Linked DNA regions of Homo sapiens: region 2 is linked to region 1. The links come from fine-mapping of genetic effects on gene expression. Tissue or cell type: esophagus muscle. Region 1 holds a variant in brackets; the other region holds the start of a gene. All regions are shown on one strand. Distances are between the middles of the regions.

Region 1 (2,918 bases):
TATGATTAATCCCACGATTTTATGTGATTTTTCTGCTTAGTTTAACTACTGTTTACTATGTTTATAATTTTAACCCTCATGATTATGACTACTTTCTACTCTGTTGACAGAAAGATTTTATTTATCTCCCTAATATCATTATAATCATAAAATTATTAAGTGCCTAATTGCAACTAAGATGATGTATTAGTCCATTCTCACACTGCTGATAAAGGCATACCCAAGACTGAGTAATTTAAAAAAGAAACAGGTTTAATTGACTCACAGTGTCACATGGCTGGGGAGGCTTTACAATCATGGTGGAAGGCAAGGAGGAGCAAAGTCACATCTTACATGGCAGCAGGCAAAGAGGGAGCTTGTGCAGGGAATTCTCATTTATAAAACTATCAGATCTTGTGAGTCTTATTTGCTACCGTGAAAACAGGAAGGGAGAAAACCCCCCATGATTCCATTATCTCCATCTGGCCCCACCCTTAACACATGGGGATTATTACAATTCAAGGTGAGATTCAGGTGGCGACACAGAGCCAAACCATATCAGATGGTTCTAGGAACTGAACACAGACCCAGATTTTTCCTCTCATAATTTATAATAGAGCAGGATCTGAGAATAGTGGCTTATTGTAGATGTACACACCCACAGAGAAAGGATAATCAAATCCTCTATATCCTTCATCCACCCTGACATCTATCTCTGTCTTTCCATATATCTATATTTATTATATGTTCTATCTATCCATATATCTATGATGTCTCATTATTATGCTGTAATATTCCCTGTACCTGTTATAGTCTGATTTAAGTGCACATATATATACTTATGCTCTCTACATAAGTGACTACAAAAGCCCACTTTTAAAACCTTAAACTCCAAAGCTGAAAAAATCTCAAGGGCAAAGTTAGCATGTTTTTCTTCCATGATGACTCTTTTAAGAACTTATTGAAAAGCTTGGCATTCAGAGAACATCACAGAAAGGGTCTGATGTTCCAGGGCATAAAAAGATGGAAAATCATAGGCGAGATCCTGTTCACCATACCGTGTTACGCTAAGTTATTTTCTCATATACTCAGGTGATCCACCCTTTAAGGTAATTTTATGTAAGAGAAAGTCAAACTTATATAGCAGGTAAATCAAGAAGTAGCTATTCATTTTACAAATAATTTGAGGCATAGTTCCAAAATATAGCAAGCCCTTACTCAGTAGTTAAAATGAGACTTGATTCACAAAATTTCAATTTATACATAATTTGCCATGAGATGGTCTTGATGACCTGGTCTCAGTCTAGTCCTCAGCACACATTTATGAAGCACTGACCTTGTCCCAGGAACTGCGCTTTGCTTGGTGAGCAGCACCTGGAGCACGCACAAAGATATTTTGGGGGCAGCCTCTAAATTTGTGAGCTTGCATACATTAGTGCCAGAATCTGCAGAATCCCCATTGGAAAATAAAAATCAAGAGAGTCATGGAAGTGCTTATCCCATATTATGCTTAAAGTAACTAAGTGACCTCAAATATTATGGTGATACAGCACTTATGAAATCAGATGCAAATAATTTAAGCAATAGCACAGCATCCATCATCTTATTTAAGATATCAAGCAATCCAACATTATGTACATATTGTTAATTTAAGAGTTTTTCGTGCATTAAAAGTGAATGTCTAGAAATTGAGTAAGATTAAGCTACTGTTGCTGTGTGTTTGCAGTTTTGAGTGAAAACAGACTAAGAATGAGA[C/T]TTTATTTCTTCCCAGAACTTTGAGCTTGTGAAAGACTTTCCCAAATATATCTAAATACATTATCTAGCAAGCTGAGAACAGACTTTCAACTTTTAATGAATAACTTCTTTCAAGTATATGACATTTCTATTAAAAAGAAAAAGAAATATAGTATTGTTCTCTCATTGCTTCTTCAGAGAGCATTCAAGGCAAGAACAGCTCAGAGCCCAAGATGAAGCTAGTAAAAGATAAAACTGAACTCATAAAATTTTTCATTCAGCTGCTTACATCAGAACATCTTTTCACTGGCTTTCAACCAACCAGTATCACAAAGCTTACAAAAGTTACATGGTGATCATCTGTTCTCAGCCAGAAATACTCTCCACTCTAAATTCACAGAATATTATGTGAATCAATATTCAGTTTATGAAAATCAGCCCATCTCATTGTCATATCATTTTTAACTAATCATATTTGGAAGGAGAAGTATACCCCCTCTCCTTCCATACAGAAGGAAGTCAATGGGATTTCATGATAACAAATCAGAAAGCCTGGTTCCATGCTTGCTAGCTTTGTGACCTGTACCATACCTCTTGCAACTCCTAGAACCTCAATCATTCTGCCTGCAAATTGGAGATGCTGCTACTTCTGACACAGGGAAGAGAGGAAGTTAATGAAATAATATTATAACAAGTGCCCTGTACAGTTCCTGGAACATAGAATGGGCTCAATAAATGATAACTATTATCATTGTTATTATCTCTTATGTTTTTCATAGTTTTATTGATTCCTGTAAATGTTAGTTCAGTTACACAAATGGCAAAAGATTCAGTTGATTGGTCAACTATTAGGTATATTACCTACTAAATAGCAATGTTTCCTTAGGAGAATTACATTTGCTCCTCCAGTTTCAAATATTTCTTTTTTTGAGTAGTCATAATCCAATGTGCAAACCCTTCTTATCACACAGATACTAGGAGATTCTGTCCCCCTTTAAATGTGCATTTCAGTTCATTACTTCACGATGACATGAGGAAGCTACAAAAGCATTACTAGCCTTATATTCTGGCAATATAGAAACATGGAGACCACTGAAAAAGTCATTCTGAGTCCAGAAACTCTCACCATTTTGAAGACAGCAACATTAAGCACAGTTACCTCTTATAAATTTTCCAGGTTCCTGACTAGGCAGGCCTCAGAAACC
Region 2 (2,918 bases), 37 kb before region 1:
CACCCACCACACCAAGGCATGGACAAATGCAAACGAAACTCAAAAAGAAAATCTGAGCCTCTCTCCCTCCAGGCCCTGAAATCCCACCTGCAGGCATCCCCTTACCTCCTGATAATTAAGTCCGTGACTTGACACGTTATTTCTGTCAGAGCAGTAAGAGCAGAGAATATACTGTGTCATTTTATCATTTTATTCCGTCACATAAAAAGTGAGTTTTTCAGTTCACAAAATTTGGGTCAAATCTCTGCTGTTTAACTGGGCAAGTCCCTTAACGTCTGTCTAATTTCTAGGTCTAAGTTCAGAAATAAGCTAGCCTACCTTCTAGGGATGTTATGAAAATTAAATGCGTGAACTCTGTAAAATGCCTAGCAGGTACATCAATCAATATTTGTGTCCAGCAATGTAAAAGCCCAACAAAGTTTCCTTTTCTATAGTCTTAGGAAAACGACAAATCAGAAAACTATTACAGAGGACGCCAAATTGGCAAACAGCCCGGGCCCCAGCCCTGGGGTGAGAGCCTAAGGCCTGGGGTAGAAGGTGACGTAACCAGGACGCGGTGAGATGTGGCGCGCGCGCCTAAACTCGCGCGGGGCGCCAGCAGCTGCAGATTTCAGGAGAGCTCCTGTAATGAACACGCCGCCCTTTGCAGGCTCAGGATTCAGCACGTAAAACTTTCTCCCCAAACGCTGACTCTCTGACTCCTTTTTCTTAACTCTAGCGGATCTTGGAAAAGTCAAAGCGAGTAGGTGAAGGAAGACAAGCAACTCACAGAGAAGACTAGGGGGGGGGGCCATTGGGTCTGCACACCTGCAAGTAAGTGGGAAGAAGCAAGCAGGAAGCGCCAGAATAACCTCCCGCCCCCAGCTCACACTCGCACCTGGGAATGAACTTGGCTTCGTCCCCAAGTCGCGCCTGGAAATCCTGCCAAGCCCGGCCGGGACTCGCCGGGCCGCACGAGGTGGCCAGCGCCGCCGCCGCGTCCTCGTCGCCTTCGTCCTCCTCGCTGTCGTGTGTCTCCGGCCCCGCCTCAGACACGGCGGGCGCGGGATCCAGAGGACCCCAGTCCCGGCGCCGCCCCCCGCGGAGGGACCCGAGGAAGCCACGCGCGAACTCCTGGAAGGTGATGGCGCCGTCACGGTCGGCGTCCAGCCGCTGGAATACTGCCTCGGCGTCGGCCGGCCGCACCCGCAGCTCCGTGCACAGTGCCCGGAACTCCTCGCGCTCCAGGCGCCCCGAGCGGTTCGCGTCGCAGGCGGCGAAGACTGAGCGCAGCCGGGCCAGCTCCTCTCCGTCCCCATCCGCCTCCATCCCGCCTGGCGGGGGCGGCCGAGAGGGCTCCGGAGCGCCGCGGGGCGCAGGGCCCTCCCTGGAAGGACGGGGCCACCTGCTGCCGCCGGGAGGCCCGGCGAGTTTGGCTCGTCCGGCTGGTTCGGCCACTTGAGGGAACGTCGGGCGGGGCGAGGAACGTCGGGGGTGGCCGAGCGGCTCCCTTCGACGACGGTTCGGGCCAGCCCCCAACAGGTCCCGGGAGCGGTGGGGTGCGCCCGGGCTCCAGGCACCGCCAAGGAGCGCCTCCTGCGACTGAGCGCCCAAGCGCCGAGGTGGCTCTCGCCACTTTCCCGGCGGGTGCAGCTCCGCCCAGCCAGGGAGGAGGAGCGCGCGCCACCGCTTCTCCAGTTCCCACGCCCCGGAGTCCACCGCTGCTTGCCGCGCAGGTGGGGGAGACCTGGCTGGCCGGAACTGGGATTCGGGGGGAGCATTGCCCTTCGGCGTAAGCGCTGCTCAGGTAGAGCCCAGCGCTCCGCTTCTCCACAGAACGTGCTGGCGCGCGCGTCAGAAGCTAACCGCACAGAGGTAAGGTAGGTAGGGGTAGGATTCCGAATGGGTTAAGTGCATTTTATTATCTTACTCCCGAAACTTGATAAACTTCTTTATATAGAAGTTTCTTACAAACCAAAGTACAAGATTTACCAGAAGACCCCATTCTCAATTTTACTGGCTTTCGTTAACGCATTTTTGTGCGTCTAACGTTAAGGTCCCACTGCTTAAACACAGATCTTCCAGATCTCCAATTCCACATTTTTTCTCAATCCTTGTCTCCAAAACCTGAGAAAAAATTTGATAAACAAAATCGTTTGGCAGACAGCATTGTTTAAACAAAGACTGAGGTCGTTTTGTAGGTTTTTTTACTTAAACAAACTTTATGGAAATTACATATCCAAAGGTAGGTTACCCTTTGGTTTTAAACACTTTTTTCGACAATACTATTGTTTCTTTAACACTGCTTAATGGATATGAGATCTTTAAAATCCACCCATTTTGATCCTTTTAAACACTTTTTCCATCCTTTTCCAGGAGACCCTCAGTCTGTCATACGGCTTATGTAACCGTGCCTTTAGGCGATTCTCATAGCCTGTGAAGATATATTTGGCTCATTTTTACTTTATTTACATTATCCATTTCCTCCACATTTTAGACTTTCTGACTCTGTATTTTTCTTTTATCTCATTCTGGATTCTCTTTATCGTTTATTACTTTGATTTTTTAAAAATGTGATCATTAAGTAAGGGATATTACTGACACGTTCCTACTAGGCTAGTGTTCTTAAACATAAAGCTAAGTGCTAAACATCTGGGGAACTATTTCCTCTTGAATTGTACAATAAACATGGTCAACACTAACAGCTTCTATTAAACTGTAACTACTACTGATAACCCCCATCTGAAAATTTAACTGGTAAATTATGAGAGGCATTCCATTAGAAGTCCTGGTCTTAGCAACCTAATTGCTAAGTGAATATAGTTGTATACAGTTGGACAGCTAATACAATGAATCTTATCATTAGTGCAATGTAAGTTGTTATTGATTTTGAGCTTATGTGCTTTCCTGTTTATTCTAAAGATTGATTTTTCCATATG

The links. PIP is the estimated chance that this variant, and not a neighbour inherited with it, causes the effect. A credible set is the group of variants that fine-mapping cannot tell apart.
Region 2: it holds the start of RASEF, and the variant in region 1 is the best candidate, but not a certain one, in a credible set for the expression of RASEF in esophagus muscle (GTEx, PIP 0.59).

Annotation. Positions count from the first base shown.
Region 1 is chr9:83,098,390-83,101,307 of GRCh38, forward strand. It overlaps a transcript of RASEF not described here. Among named protein-coding and RNA genes, the nearest start is that of RASEF, 37 kb to the left of the region's middle. The variant C/T (reference allele first, on the strand shown) is at 1,735.
Region 2 is chr9:83,061,560-83,064,477 of GRCh38, forward strand. RASEF (RAS and EF-hand domain containing) reads right to left here and starts at 1,583. Exons shown (of 17, transcript NM_152573.4): 1 at 878-1,583. The coding sequence starts at 1,308.